Regions from separate parts of the Homo sapiens genome. Here regions 1, 3 and 4 are each reported to be linked to region 2. The links are microRNA targets in miRTarBase. Many come from high-throughput screens and were not tested one by one. Region 2 holds a microRNA gene; each other region holds the end of a gene's coding sequence.
The links. Region 2 holds the annotated microRNA hsa-miR-8063 (UCAAAAUCAGGAGUCGGGGCUU, at 2,139-2,160, opposite strand). A microRNA usually pairs through its seed, bases 2 to 8, with sites in the 3' UTR of a target mRNA and lowers its output. Matches are read on the target gene's strand: a 7mer-m8 pairs with bases 2 to 8, a 7mer-A1 pairs with bases 2 to 7 and ends in A, and an 8mer does both.

Region 1 (4,059 bases), not on the chromosome of region 2:
CTTGTACAATTTTTTATTTTTGAGACAGTCTTGCTCTGTAACCCAGGCTGGAGTGCAGTGGTGCAATCTAGGCTCACTGCAACCTCCGCTTCGCAGGTTCAAGCAGTTATCTGCCTCAGCCTCCTGAGTAGCTGGGATTACAGGCACCTGCCACCATGCCTGGCTAATTTTTGTGTTTTTAGTAGAGACGGGATTTCACCATCTTGGCCAGGCTGGTCTTGAACTCCTGACCTAGTGATCCACCCGCCTTGGCCTCCCAAACTGCTGGGATTACAGGCGTGAGCCACCGCGTCCAGCACCTTCTAAAATTTTACTTCTTGCTGGGGCCTTCAGCGATTTTATCATAAAATCACCCAATTATGCTGACATGCTGTCACATGTCACAATCTATGTCTTATAAGCACATGGAAGGGCTTCTCAAGCAAAGTTATGTGTTTCATGAAAAAGGACAGATTGGTTGCTGCCACAAAAAGAGTTTCTCTAAATTTTTGCTTCCCTCAGATGCATGGTGTGACAAATGTAGCCTTTTTTTTTTTTAAGACAGAGTCTCGCTCTGTCGCCCAGGCTGGAGTGCAGTGGCGAGATCTCGGCTCACTCCAACCTCCACTTCCCTGGTTCAAGCAATTTCCCTCTCTCAGCCTCCTGAGTAGCTGGGATTACAGGTGCATGCCACCACGCCCAGCTAATTTTTTTGTATTATTAGTAGAGACGGTTGGCCAGACTGGTCTCAAACCAGGTTTCACCTGGTTGGCCAGACTGGTCTCAAACTCCTGACCTCAGGCAATCCACCCACCTTGGCCTCCCAAAGTGCTGGGATTACAGATGTGAGCCACAGCGCCTGGCCGCCTTTTTTACTTGCTTTTATAAACACCATTAATTTAAAGGCCAGTAACTTATTTCAGCTGCCCTACAGGCAATGAATATCCTTACTTGGACTACTGTAGACTTGGCTTCTTATAAAAACAATAATCTTTTTGGACAGAAGAAAACAAAGTATTTGGCTAATTAATTAATTAATTTGGCATTCTCAAACCTAGAGGCCATTACATTAAGAACTAGTTTGTAGTTGTTACATTTCTTTGTTTTGTCTCAGTGGATCCAGGGCTGGAATCGCCCCCATAGTGGCAGCAGGGGAGACCCCATCAGGGAGTGATCCAAACTATCTCGAGATAGGGCCGGCTGGGATTTCAAAGAAAGAAGCTCTAAGCGCCAGGGTGATCAATCCAAAGCATTTATTAGAGGAACTTCCTTACAGAGTGCTGCAGCAATGGTTGAGAGAGAAAAGGGGTGTTCTGCCCAGGTATATCAGCAGTGAGGGAGTTTCTATGACAGTTAAAGGAATTTGGCTCAGGGCCAGAGCCAGTTTCTTTTTTCTTTTTCTTTTTTTTTTTTTTTTTTTTTGAGACAGAGTCTTGCTGTCACCCAGGCTGGAGTGCAATGAGAGTCTTGCTGTGACCCAGGCTGGAGTGCAATGGCATGATTTTGGCTCACTGCAACCTCCGCCTCCTGGGCTTAAGCAATTCTCCTGCTTCAGCTTCCCGACTAACTGAGATTACAGGCACCCGCCACCATGCCCAGCTAATTTTTTTGTATTTTTTTTTTTTTTTTTAGTTGAGACGGGGTTTCACCATGTTGGCCAGGCTGGTCTTGAATGCCTGATCTCAGGTGATCCACCCGCCTCGGCCTCCCAAAGTGTTGGGATTACAGGCGTGAGCCACTGCGCCCGGCCCAGTGCCAGTTTCTTTTAGTGTTTTAGGGAACAACCTAGACAGATTTATCAGTGCCTGGGAATGTTCAAGGCCCGGTTTGGGTTCAAGCCTGCTAGGAAAAATCTGCAGCTGGCTAGGTGACAAAGGTCAAGGCACTCTGTGACTTTTGGTCAGGATACAGAAAGCAGGGGCAACTGGCAACTCTACACTTGTGAATAAGAAAATGTTCATTCTCTTCTTCTCTGGGATTTCCTAAATGATTGCTGGCACCTAGAGTATGAGAACCCTGCGTCGAACAATTTAATAATCAAATTGGTAGCTAGGTTGCAGTCAGCTTAATAGTTCACCTCTGAGGCCTCTTGGCTAATGTATATATTGGTAACTTTAATAAGAGTGGAGAGATCTGCAGGCAGCATCTTGCTCAAGTCACCAAAGTTAACCTCACCAGTGAGAAGACAACTGAGCATGTACCTCACCTGACTGGCTGCTGTGGGCAGCATCACACCTGACCTGAATCCCTTCACAGACCCAGCAGAGGGCTGTGTACAGAGCAGGTGCTCAGAAAAATCCATGCTGAAGTGAATTAAAAAATAAACAAGATCTTTGGTTTATTATCGGTTACAAAGAAAGAGGAGGTGTGGAAAGCTACTTCCACTGAGATAGCTTTCCTAACTGTTAGGTAGGAAAATGCCAGGGCTCCCACTGGAGGGCAAAGTAGAATCCAGAACACACCCATATTCTTGGTCCATTTCCCAAAGGTCCACGCCTGAGAGATTTCAAGCTGAGTAAAGGAACAAGTCTTCTGAAGATGCAGATTTTGGTTTTATTTCAATTCAGTACAGCATACACTAGTATAACATACTTTTTTTTTTTTTTTTCAAAATCACCAACCAAAACCCATCACTGATACTTTGATTGTCTAGGAAAGAAGGAGCCCCAGCCTTGTCACATACAATCTCTGTCCCTGGTGCAATGTCATCCTCACTGTGCTGTGAAAGGCAAGGCTCTCTCCTCACCCTAATAGCTCCTGTTTCCAGTGCTTGCCTGTCTTTCTTCCCAAGCGTTGGCCGGGCTGTGCTTTCTCAGTTAACCCAAAGGCTCTTGCAGGCCTTTTCCTCTCGGAAGTCCCCTCCCTCTCCCGAGAGAGAGAGCTGCTTTTTTTTCCTTTTTTTTTTTTTTTTTTTTGAGATCGAGTTTTGCTCTGTTGCCCAGTGCAGTGGCATGATCTCGGCTCACTGCAACCTCCACCTCCCAGGTTCAAGCGATTCTCCTGCTTCAGCCTCCCAAGTAGCTGGGACTACAGGTGCGTGCTACCACACCCAGCTAATTTTTTATGTAGAGACGGGGTTTCACCGTGTTAGCCAGGATGGTCTCGATCTCCTGACCTCGTGATCCGCCTGCCTCGGCCTTCCAAAGTGCTGGGATTACAGGCGTGAGCCACCGTGCCCGGCCTCAACTTTTTATTTATTAGCTTGTTGGTCTTCAACCTCTGTAAGCCTCAGTTTCCTCACTTATCAATCATCTACTGCTGTATAGAGACAGGTCCATCTCCTAGCATGCAGGGTGAGGCTAATGTGACATTTGAAAACTCCAGAGTGCTGCTGACAGTGGTTGGAGGTGAAGGAGGAGGAAATAAAAGCAATGTGAGAATAGCTTTAAAGAAAGGAAGGGCAAAAAGTTGAAAAGAAAGAGGCAGTGTGGAGAGATGGAGCCAACAGCAGCATGGGAGTCCCTGGCTAGGGTCAGGGCTTAGATGACGACATTGTTGGTTGGGTTCACTTGCCCTCTGAACTGCACAGGGAATCGAGCTGGTCATTAGACATGGCCTGGAGCCAGTCACTGGAAAAGGAAATCAATACCCAGACTGATTCTCAGAACAGCCACCATTTGTATGATTTTAATCCATAGAATCATTCTGAAAGCTTCTTAATCTTCACCTTTTTTCTGGACAGGAGACAGGTGGCTGAGCCTAGCCCTGGACTGGATCATATCTTCACACTTCCTTAAGCCACAGAAAACTTGAACCAGGTGGTGTGGTCATACTCCTCACCAGGCCTCAGCAGCACAGGAGGGAAGCGGGGCTGTGAAGGGGAAACAACACAGGTGATGCTTGACACCGCAGGCTGCAACATTAACCATTTGGGTGTGCTTCTGGACGGGCTTCTAGACCAGTGCTCTGTGGATGGCTGCCAGTGCGGGAACTGTTTATGATTGGTTCATAGTGAGATAAAGAACTTTAATCAGAGTGAAAAAAGCACACTTTGTTAAAGGAAGGCTTTCCTGATGAAGGGAAGCAGTGTGTTGATCTATAATCTGGTGTAAGGTGTAGGCTTTTTTTTTTTTTTTTTGA
Region 2 (4,067 bases):
GTCCGCTGTAACCAGTTGGCAAGTTCACTGCATAAACATCAACACCAATTTAATGACTGTGTACACATCGTAAACTAGAGAATCTTTATACAAAGAAATCAGATAAATCAAACATGAGCTGAGGCTAAGGAGAAAGCAATTAAAGCTTTAGGTTAAGGTGGCTGCGGGAGGGCACTGTGTCACGTTAGAGCAGAGAACAGAAAATGTGTTAATACAACTGCAGTATGTATAATTAAATTAATTAGTAATATAAAATGTGTTTAAAGCAACATCTCATCAACAGATTAATAGATAAGAAACTTTTAGAAGTTTTAATTTTCCCATTGTATGTGTTCAAAGAATAGGAAAAAAAAAACCCTCTGAAATTTCCTAAGGGGTTGATAAAAATAAAATTGCTGTGGTGGTGGGCTTGGGGGGGTGGGGGATGTAAAGTCGATTTACCTGCCTCTGGCTAGTAACAGGAAAAAGGAATAATCAGAACATAAAAACCTGTTTGGCCATATTTCATCTCCTTATAGCATATTGAAATGTTTTGGCGCCAACTCATCTCATTCTAATACCTCGAAGGCTGGTATAAAACACCTTTAAGGCACATTGTTTTCTGAGCAATTATTTAGAGTCAATGTCTAAGAAATGCTTAAGCATCACCTGGTAATACAAATTTTAAAGTTATATTTAAAACACCCAAGGAGGTTTTTACTGAACAAAAATTAGATTGCCTATATGCCAAAGCTCCTCATCAACTGAAAGCTGGAAGCTAAATTTGGCCGTAAGAAACTGGCTTGGAACTTCAGAAGTTCTGGGGCCAAATTCAGCCCTGTATTACTTGTATGCCTTGTTACATTAAAAAAAAAAAAAAAAAAAAAAAAAAAGGGCTGTTCCAGTGATAGCAAGCATTCCATTTATTCATCTCAAAAGCAATAAGATCCTAGAATGGAGCCTTCATAACACAAAATGCTTTTAAGTTTTCCCTGAGGGGAACACAATATACACAATTCATGTAAAAAGAAGAAAAATGAAAGCTAAGTATTTCAGTTAAGGGTCAGAAATCAATATTTCCTTAACAGCCTAAGCAACATGCATTACTCTTAATACAAATACTCAGAGACTTTACATTCTTCATAAAGGGAGATTTTCACATAATTGGGGTTGAAAGTGGCAGAATATGCTCTCCCAACTTAGTTTCTATTGCTGCAAAATGGAAAAGAATATATTTGGACAGCATTTCACTGATCCCTGTCATCCTCGGTTAAAACTTCTTACCTAAATGTCCAAGTGTGGAGCAACACGTAACTAAATTTTAATACATCTCAATGGAATATGATAAAGACATTGCAATATCAATAGGAGAACAATATAGTAACAGAAACTATAAATGTAAAACTAACTTTATTGAAGAAATGAGAATATGGTATTTTTCAGGTGGCAAAATTTTTTCATGATGTTCCGTTATGCTGTCAATAAAAAGTTTTAAAAAAGAAAAACTTCTGCCTGAGTAGCACAAAAGTAAGTTATGATAAGATGTAGTAGGAAGAGAATGAACCTTAAGAGATAAAGTGTAACTAAAAGGACTGAGTTTAAAAAAACAAACATCCTGACTAGCTGGTGAGCATTAACATTAGTCCTCCTTCTGTTCTCCAGAATGGAGCCAGAGTGATCCCTGCAAAGGACCCGTGTGATTTTGTCACTCTACTGCTTGGCATGCTTCAGTGGCTTTCCATTATTTTCAGGCTGAAGACGAAAATGTTTATCATGGCCTTCAAGGTACCCAATGATCTGGTCTCGAACTCCTGACCTCAAGTGATCCGCCCACCTTGGCCTCCCAAAGTGCTGGGATTACAGGTGTGAGCCACCGCACCTGGCCAATAGAAACTATTTTTAAAAATTCATTTATGTGTCTTATGCCTTTTAAAATATTTTTTGTCCTGTTTTCTCCTTCTTTCAATAGTGTACTCTGATATGATTCAAAGGAACCCCAGGGACCAACACCTCTCCTGGTTTCCAAAAGACCTTAATTTTACTACAGTTTAAGATTCAAGTGTATAACAAATTCTTTTTTTCTAAAGCAGAATTTAGAGGAATCAGTTGTGACAATTCATAGAGATACACTTTTTTTTTTCTGTGCATGAAAAGCAGTAAAGCCCCGACTCCTGATTTTGAAACCAATTTCTCATATCAAAAGTCTACACATCTGTTGAAACTGCCTCTATTGCTTAGGACTAAGAAACAATTTCTTTGTATGGGCTGACTGAACAACTATCTTTTAAATCTCTTAAGTATGTACTAGAATTAGTCTGTGTTTGCATAGACATCTTTTACTTGTCGATATACACCAACACAGCTGTGGAAGAAAGACTAAGCTTTAGTTTCCACTTGGCCATCGGAAACTAAAGTCACTTAATCTCTCTAAGCCTCAGTTTGCTCATCTATAAAATAGGACAATAATACCTGCTTTACAGGTATTTGGGAGGATTAAGTAAGAAAATGATAGAATCATGCTGGATAAGCTGTAGAGCATTTACAAATAGAAAACATAATCAAGATTCCACTTAGCTTGAGGATTCAGACACAGAGTTTTGCAGAGTGGCCAAGTCACAAAAGGGCTCTTCAAAGGCTTCTACTCTCTGGTGTGACACTGGCACAACACCTATTGCCCCGGTAGAAAGACCTTTATTTCAAAATGTTTCACTAGGAAACAGTTAAAAGCTGTTCTTTGGTTAAGCGCACTGACTCTTATTTGGATGCTGCTGCCTCTTTAAAGCTTAGATCTGCATTCTTCTAATGGAGAAAAGGAGAGTAGGCATAAAACTATAGAATAAAGAGCCTGGAACTTAGTAGGTGTTATAAAACATTGGTTTAAAAAAGAAAACATGAGTGAATAAACCCAAAGCGTTCATCTATTTTAAATTATCCGAATTGCCATGGTAAAATACAAGTTGTAATTAGAAGAATCAGGTTTGGTGCTTTGCACATAATAAGAGTTGAAAAAATAAAGAGGATGACTGGAGTAATGACGTTCAAATAAGAAGTTAAAATATTAACACTAAAAAACTGTAACTGAACTTTTAATTAAAAAAACCCTAAAAACTAATGACATTGTTTTCTTCTTATTTAAAAAAAAAAGCCAGTATTCCACTTGAAATGTTCGTGAGATATACAAATCCACTGATTTCCAAAATTAACCTTATGATATTTAAAGATGATATATGCCTTGTTGTCTATGGATACCTGCCAGAACTTGTACTTACGTATTTCTAAACACTTAATTCAGCAATATTTCACATCAATTTCCCCCTCGATTTTTCTAGCTATCATGCCTTGAGAGCAGTTCCTATCTTTGACCTTGAAAACTCTCAATAAAAATCAGTCACATTTCCATTTCCTAGAAATTCGAAGAGTGTCACCAAACTTTCAGGTACAGATAAATTCTTGTCTGGTTATCCTGTATTGTGAAATGCCAGCTCTTCATTATTTCAGAACATTCTATATCAGGGCTGATATTGAATCTATAATTTTGTGTTTTAAAACACCAAACATCATAGTGAAATTCAAAAAATGAATTTCAGAATTCTGAGTGTTCATATTTCAAGCTCCTACATAGTTCGTTTATTTTTTCTTTCCATCGAGCCACAGAAGTTGACCCCAGTAAGACCATTAAGTCCACTGATTTCATTAGTAATATTTTTGTTCACACTCCAAAAATCAAATTGTTCATATTCCAAAAATTAAATAATTTGGTTTATCAACATTTCAATGATTTTCCATATTCTCCCAAATTATTTGAGAGCTATGACATACCACGTTAACATTTACATATGAAAAACAGAAGCAAAAAAGCAATTTTCCTAATAGAAGGCATTTAATCACGTTGAAATAAGATCTTACCTTACAGGGCTGCCCCTCAGCCCACCTTATACTTTCTGGATGTTTAAGTCTGTGGCTTTGACTTACATGGGTTAACGTCCTCTGTAAGCTAAATCCAGTATCAGATGGATATGGCATGAGGAACCAGCCAGCATGAGGAACCAGGTCCTACTGTTAAATCTGCGTGCCATGTTCAGTTGAGA
Region 3 (4,059 bases), not on the chromosome of region 2:
ATTCATCAGAGTCCAGTAATGGATCCCCAGCCAATCTGTATTGTTTTAGCTGACTGAAGTGCACCATGGGAGTGCTGTCTTTCACTAATAATGCTGTCTTCTGTAGATCGAGGCCCCGAAAGCCATGGCAGCAGACCTTCTCAGAAGTTTTTGGCACTCGTTGGAAGATCCTGTGGTTCATTCCTTTCAGGCAGAGGCAACCACTGCGAGTTCCCTACCACTTTGCCAATCATGTCTAAACAGATGGATGGTGGGCACAGATGGGTCCTCCATGCTGGCAATGCGTTACAGGTTTTATGATAATAGAACTATGACAGTCTTCAAGTCAATTAAAATCCACCCACCAGTCTTAGGCATCATAATGTGCCCCAGGCTTTATTTTAATAGTGATCTTGATCCTGTTGTGGGACTAATACAAGATCTATATTTAAGTTTTAAAGCATGTTTACTTTCAAATTAGCTTTCCACAGGGATTTCTTGAAATGCTTTTGTTATTAAACTCAAAAGGCAGTGATTAGGATGAAATAATTGTACATAATTTATTTTAGTACTGACAGTGTTACAGATTCTAATTTATGGTAAATTTCAGATGTTTATTTAAAATTTTCACTTTTAAACAGTAACCAAATCTAAATTTAATTATTCAGGTTTTACAAAAGTTGATACACCTTCTTATAGTATAGGTAAATTTTCTTTTTCAAATCCAATTTAAAATAACCTTTCCTTTTAAATGTGCTGCAACGTTTTTAAAAATGCAGCAGCATAGGAGTGAACAACAGCAACACAAAACGGGCATTGGTTTCTTAGGAGTGGCTTGCTTACGTTTTCTTCTTTTTTCTTCACCAAAACCAACATGAAAGTACCACTGAAGTAAAACACCAACTACCTACCTTACTATAAAGGAAATGTTAAAATTTTTTTCACAATAATTTTTTCAATTTTCACTATTACTGTTGTAATTATTGATTGTGATTAAAATATTTGCTCCCAGGAGAACTCCTGACCAGTGGGCATGTATTCCTATTTTATCCTAAGATTTTAATGAGCAAAAAGGGGAGAGAATTTGCAATAACTTCACAATTACCTTTTCTAGTGCAGTTATATTAGAATGCATATGTTTTTAAAATGCTAGTATAACTAGATAGTATATAATGTACAGTATAAAGAGGAATATTGTGCTTTTGAAAAGAGTATACTTTTTACTTTTATTTATGTACTAGTAGATGTAAAATTTCACATTGAAGGTTTATATATATTGGCCAACTCATATAGAAATTTTATTTATAGGAAGCTACTACTAAAAAAAGTCACTAACTTTGTGTACCTATAATCCCTAAATTAAAATTAAATTTTAATTGGCTGGCTGTAATTTGCATTGAGAGACCTTTTACTAGTAGCTAGTGTTAGGAAGTGAACCTAAAATAAGAAAATATAATGATCTGTGTTTATCATTAGCCTTGTACAAATGTAAATTACTAATAGTGATGTTCTTTTGCAAGGCATAGAACATTTGTATGAAAAGACATTTAGTATGCTTTGAAAAAAACTCAGCTTTTAGTTTTTTTCCATTAGAATACTGCAAAACCCATATATCTTTTTAAAAAATTTATGTACTCACAGTCTTTCCCTTGAAGAGAAGATTGAAAAAGTCTACTGTTCATAAACCATGCTAACATTTTCCTTTTAGCTAGTTTTGAAAGTAAGGAACAATACCTGGGAAATAATTAAACAGAAGGTTACCATTGTCAGCCAGTTGGCTATACTGTGGTTAGTTCTTTCAGAAATTGTAAATATCTTGTAGCATATTCTGAAATAATAGAGTAAGTTCTTCTCAGAGATGTTAATATCATGTTTTTCATGTTCTAATTAGAATACTTTATTACTTACAAACTCAGAAATACGAACAGAAATACAGCAGACGAACATATTTATTGGTACTGAAAAGAGACGTAGTAAATTAAATAGAAGAAATATATTTATAAAGCTTAGTGAAACACAAAATTAGAATGTTCATGTCAGGCACAAGGGTTTGGATTTTGTGCAAGCTAATTTGGCCACATTTGGCCTGGTGACAGAACTGTTCATAAGGAAGTAATATATAGATAAGGTAGGTAGATATCAGTTGAATGCCTTATATTGTATACATTCCTTTCAAATAAAGACCTTGAGAAAACAGCAGAGCCAAGTGAAGATCACCTAAAGAACTTTGTGGCTAATTTATACTTCATGTAGTAGCAGTGGGTACTGGGCAGGGTCTCTTTCCCACTCTGATGATTTGTGCTCTTATTTTTCCTAGATTTACCTCATCTAGGGCATATTCTTTTCCCTCTTCCTCTTTACCTTTCCTGGTCCTGATCCCTCTGTACTCAGTTCCCCTAAATTATTGGACTACAAACTAATATACTAGAAAAGCATACACTTATTTTATTTGAATGCAGAAATGCTATCTATCAGTATATATACATAAGAATGTATATTACAGTATATCTATATATACTTAACACTGTAACTTTCAGTATTCCCCAGTTAGCGTACCTAACTCTCCTGTGGGTTTTGTTAATTCTTATTAGACTACTAGAGAAAAACCAACTGGCAGTTTGCTAAGCATATCTACTGGTGTTGTTTCTGCGCCCTCTTTTGGCTAATTGATGTAATTATACTGGCTCTAAAGATTTACTGCCCCATAAGTAAATAGTATAGCCACATTCTGAACATATCAAAAGTACAAACTTAGGAGGAGTGTATGTACAAAAATGTAAAATTTTATGAAAATGAACATGTTTTTATGATGTTATTTCTAGTTCATAAGAATGTGATGACTGCTTTGCTTCATTTATGTACGTTCCCATTATATTCTTGCTGTCAATCAATCACAAATTTATATCAGATTAGGATAAACTAAGCCATTTTATGTATTTTATTTTAAACCTTATTTTGGCAGAGTAATTCCTTAGAATTGGAAAAGCTGTTACTTTGAAATTACCAATTTATTACAAAACATAGAAATGTATTGTAGCTACAAAGACAACCAAGCATTTTCTGTGTTTTAATGAATATCTAAAAAACTACATTTAGTTTATTTTACTCAGTTTTGAAATGATTTTTTTACTGGCTCTATTGCCTTAAAATAACTAAGAGATTAATGATTCTTTGTATAATTTTCCTTTTCTTTGTTCTTTTTTTTACATTTCGCAGAGTTATATCTATAGTTTTAGTAACAATTTCTTATGTATTCTGGATAACTGAAAACAACTAAAGGTGTTGGGCATTAGAAAATAATTGTGAGCAGTAAGATTACTGATGTAATATGTATGTTGGACTGAAGTATTTCTTTATAAACATTCTATTTGATTTTAAGCAAAATGTATGTTAAAGCATGTTTTTACATCAGTAAAGTCATTTGTCGACCTTCTGGAAATGAAAGGTTTTTACCTAGATACTGTAAGTTACACCTCCTTAACAATCATATTTGTCATTGTTGTTTTCTGCAAACAAAAATGTTTATGGGCTTCATGTAGGCTTAAGATTGTAGGCAAAAATGGACTGAGTTCAGGACCCTTCAAGCAGTAGGCATTCAGTTACAGAGCAGTTGGTACTTTGTAACCCAGACTTACAGTTTAAAAATATCAAGTTAGCTGATGTTTCATTATAATAAAAATACTATTTTGCTTAAGAGTTGTATTACAAATATTTGTGCTTAACATTAGAAATAGCTGTTTTAAATTGTAGTTAACATATTAACTTTTTCAGAAAAAAAGCATGGTTTATTTTTAATAATGAAATAGAGAACATAATACGTAATGTTCAGTATAACAGCTGAGTTAAAACATCTGCCAGGATTAACATCAGTGCGTTTTTGCCAATGCATAGAGGCATTTTTCTCTAAGTATGATGGCTAATGATAACTATTCTTTGTTACACATTCAAGTCACTCCCATACAAGTAACTAGTGGGTGATATGTTTCACTCCAAAGGGTGTATTAATTCTGAATGCTAATCATGAAGACTTAAGTTAGGACAACACTTCAAACCAGGAAGTGTGAACTGATTTAGATTATA
Region 4 (4,059 bases), not on the chromosome of region 2:
TAGAGTGATAGAGAGCAGCTCAGTGATTTCCATGGGCCAGACTTTAGGGGAGGAGATTGACTGCAAAAGGATAGGGGGACATCTGGGCTAGTGAAAACGGTCTATGTCGATTGTGGTGGTGGTTATGTGACTGTATGCATTTGTCAAAATTCATTGAACTTTTAACCTCTATGGAAAACAGTATGGAGATTTCTCAAAGAAATAAAAATAGAACTACTAGTTCATCTAGCAATGCTACTGCTGGGCATCTACCCAAAGAAAAAGAAATTATTTTCTCAAAAAGACATCTGCATTCATATGTTTATGATAGCACTATTCATCATAGCAAAGTCACAGTATCAACCTAAGTGTCCATCAACAGTGGACTGGATTTTAAAAATGTAATACTTACACACACACACACACACACACACACACACACACACGCACACCATGGAATGCTACGCAGCCATAAAAAGGAATAAAACATGTACTTTGCAGCAACATGAATGCAGCCGGAGGCCATTATCCAAAATCAATTAATGCAGAAACAGACAACCACATATTCTCACTTATAAGTGAAAAGTAAACAAAGGGTACATTTGGACATAAAAATGGAAATAATAGACACTGATGACTCCAACAGAGAGGAGAGAGGGATGGGGGCAAGGGTCAAAAAATGACCTATTGGGTACTATGTTTACTATTTGGGTGATGGGTTCTATAGAAGCCCAAACCCCAGCATTATGAAATATACCCATGTAACACACCTGCATTTGTACCCCCTGATTCTATATTATTTTTAAAAAAGAGGGAATACATATACAAGCAAAAATAGACTATAAAGCTGATTACAAAAAAGATTTATAATAAAATTACATAGATCTTCTTGAAATTAAAATATAGTAATTGAAATGAAGAAAAATTCATTGAACTTTGAGGGCATTTATTGCATATAAATTATACATAAAAATTGTTTTAAAAAACTCTAAACTGCCACATAGAATCAAAAATTGAAGTATTTCAGGTTCTGTTTCTTGTCTTTACAATCATGGTATAATCATTGTTTATTTCAAATCCATCATTTAAATGCAATAATATATAGTACTACAGGGGCTGGAGACACATGAGCTGACACCATATGTACTGAGAGCCAACTATATAGCAGGATATTCCCTGAATTAGTTTCCATGTGGAGTAAAATGATTATTGAAGAAAAACAGTACAAATGTGCTACTTTGAAGCTTACATATATGTATTATTTAAAACTCAACAGTAACCTCAGAAATTGTTTAGAACCTAGTTCAATAAAATATTTTGGGGGATGAATACTTTATCACTGATATTATTTAGAATTGCTGGCTCATGGTGGTAATAAAAAATAGACCAACTTGTAGTCAGCTTTATTATTGTTTTCAAATTCTTTCCAGTGTACCCTCTATTCCCTGCCCTTTGCGGGATAGACTTGTTGTCTCATCACCTGTCCTTGATATTCTACTGCTACTCCTCATCAACAATTGTGGGTTACTGGGACTCTAGAATAATATCACAAAGCCAGAGGCCAGTCTGACTTGCAGAATCTTTGAAAACCTCATTATTATTCAAAGAGTATTATTGATTGCCTACCGCAACCGGGGGCCATTCTAGGTGCTAGCAATTTCAGGTGAAACAGTCTCTGATCTCCAGGACTTAAGTTCTGATAATGTATATTGACATTGTGAGTGCAAGCAATAGCATTTTCTCCAACAGTTAAAAGTAGTAGCCTTTTCTAAAAGTTACAGGTTGTCCTCTCTTCCTTCCCCTTTGTTTATCTTTCTCAGTGTCCTCCCAGGTGCACCCCTTTCTCCCAGCACCATAACCAATCACATTTCTTTAAGTTTCAAGTAAGGTCTCAAGTGCAGGGGCATATTATCATCTTAGAAGGGAGAACCAACAAATAGAATCTTTTGCCCAACTTAGATCTATTTGTCCTTCTTATGGACCTGTGACATTCACCTGTCAATCTGCTCTTACAAGCCTCTATCAGATGCAAGGTGCTTCTGAGATTTTTGATACAGGGATGCAGCTTAGAATTGTAAGTGGCCTCCTTGATATTCTGCATCACTAGATAAGGCTTACACAGCAAATACCTATGCTCATCAAAAAAAAAAGTCTAAGATAAAAGTGCAGGCAAGCAGTTCAGAGGGGATAAAAGGCCCATTGTGAAAACAATGGGAAGGCTAGTATAGGCCAAGTTAGGTCTCCCACCAACCTCTCTGCTTTATGAGGGCTACCACGCAGCTCATCCCAGTCCCACTGGAGTCTTTTCTTCTTCTAAGCCTATGTAACAATTTCTCACTTAGAACTGTAAAGGTATTTAGAATACATGTCAGGGCCAGAATTTGCAGAGGTCAAGAAGCTTCTTTATGATTAAGTGAATGACCCCAGCAAGGTCAGTATTAGCTTCACCAAGACTTCTTATCAGACTAGTGGGCCAACCACACTTCCCATTCCTCCCAAAGAAAAGTCAGATAGGAGCTTGGAAGTAGTGCTGGACCTCAATACTAGTGTTCAGAATCTCATGACAATTTTTATATCTTATATGTTCATGATTGCAAAGAGAAGATAATGATTTTTTTTCTGATAATAATGCAGCATATTCCTTTCAGATCAATGTTAGCACATCCCTTGTCAATAAAATTTATATTCCACCTCAACCAATTCCTTTCATAGGCATCAGCTGATTTGAATGGGGTGACGTATTTTACAATGATGAGGAAGAAGCATTTTTTTGTTTTGACTTTACATGAGCACTGGTGACTGATTTTTAACACACACACACACACACACACACACACACACAAAATCTCTGGTGATGAAAATAACCATTAAATATAACTAATGCAATACTATGCCTTTGTATGATGAACTGACTCACTGCTTAGTATAGTTTTATGTGCTTTGCTTAAAACATTTGAGGCCACAGAAAGGTTGGACATGAAATAAAGTCTTCGGGGTTATTTCATATTCTTTTAAGAGTGTTTCTTCAGCTGCCAGGGAAAGATGTGTGCATGAATTCTCTTACCCATGTCAAGGCCAGTTACAGCTCCATAAAATCAATTCAGCTGTGGTAGACTGATAAGTGCATGTTTCAAGATGACACAAAGTGATCAAGCCAGGTGAGAACTAGAAGAGCTTTGGGGCTAAATTAAATGCCATTGCCTGATGGGGAAGAGGAGAGGAAGGAAATGCACAGGCCAATTGTTGCTGGGATGATATGATTTTGTAAGCCCTCTATGATCAGTGTTAATCCTGTGTTGTTTTGTATATTTTCAAAATGTATACATGATAGTTTGCTAGAAATGGTCACCCAGTGACAGAGGACCTGGCCCTTTCTGGTCACTTGTCCCCTTTCACTGTTTTGGGGACTTCTCTAGGAGGTTCTAATCCAAAGTAAACTTTTACTTTGAAAGCTTTAAAAGTCCTTTTACTCTACGGATGTTATGTGGAAAGGCTTGCTTACTCTCGGCTCCATTGCTCTTAAACCTCTTGGTCTTGCTGGCAAAATTTATATGAATCAGAGATTATTTTTAGGTCTGGGGTTTATATTAGAAATTATTCACTGTCATTCAACAAATATGCACAAAGCACCCACTAGATACCAGGGATACATGGGCAAACTTCCTGTTTCTGAAAATGCTGCCAAGTCTCAGTTCCTGAGCACTTGGCGCCTTTTACTTTGGGCCCTAGGTAGAACCACAGATACAGGTAGTACTGATGGACATCTTCTTGTCATGGCTGAAGTTTTCCGGGGAATGGTTCTTTGAGGAGCTACCTTGGCTGAGGCTCTCTTGGTTGAATCTCTAAGTACAAGAGCATAAGACAAGGCTTCCCGTTGAGTAATATAGCCTAGGGGAAAGAAATGAGAGAAACTTCAAAATCAACAATTTTACAAGGCAAATAAGAAAACAAAACTGCAAATATTTACTTATGTGTACAAAATTTATTCTACTCTTGTGGTAAGCATGCCCAGATTATATGATCTTTGAAGATTGGAAATATATTTTTCTTCTTTTGTATTTCTCATTCAATAAGTTAATA

Region 1: miRTarBase lists GALM as a target of hsa-miR-8063. Seed matches in the 3' UTR shown: 8mer at 2,587-2,594.
Region 3: the mRNA of ZDHHC21 is a reported target of hsa-miR-8063. Seed matches in the 3' UTR shown: 7mer-m8 at 2,033-2,039.
Region 4: miRTarBase lists FAM216B as a target of hsa-miR-8063. Seed matches in the 3' UTR shown: 7mer-A1 at 3,291-3,297 and 7mer-m8 at 2,820-2,826.

What each region holds. Positions count from the first base shown.
Region 1 is chr2:38,733,219-38,737,277 of GRCh38, reverse strand. GALM (galactose mutarotase) reads right to left here. Exons shown (of 7, transcript NM_138801.3): 7 at 2,513-3,790. The coding sequence ends at 3,713. LOC124905993 (a long non-coding RNA gene) reads left to right here and starts at 3,728. Exons shown (of 3, transcript XR_007086292.1): 1 at 3,728-3,812.
Region 2 is chr15:36,970,693-36,974,759 of GRCh38, forward strand. MIR8063 (microRNA 8063) reads right to left here and starts at 2,209; the gene lies at 2,129-2,209. The region is part of intron 8 of MEIS2 (Meis homeobox 2); the gene reads right to left.
Region 3 is chr9:14,615,146-14,619,204 of GRCh38, reverse strand. ZDHHC21 (zDHHC palmitoyltransferase 21) reads left to right here. Exons shown (of 10, transcript NM_178566.6): 10 at 107-4,059. The coding sequence ends at 239. Among named protein-coding and RNA genes, the nearest start is that of ZDHHC21, 76 kb to the left of the region's middle.
Region 4 is chr13:42,788,399-42,792,457 of GRCh38, reverse strand. FAM216B (family with sequence similarity 216 member B) reads right to left here. Exons shown (of 4, transcript NM_001318932.2): 4 at 909-3,867. The coding sequence ends at 3,668. Among named protein-coding and RNA genes, the nearest start is that of FAM216B, 8.8 kb to the right of the region's middle.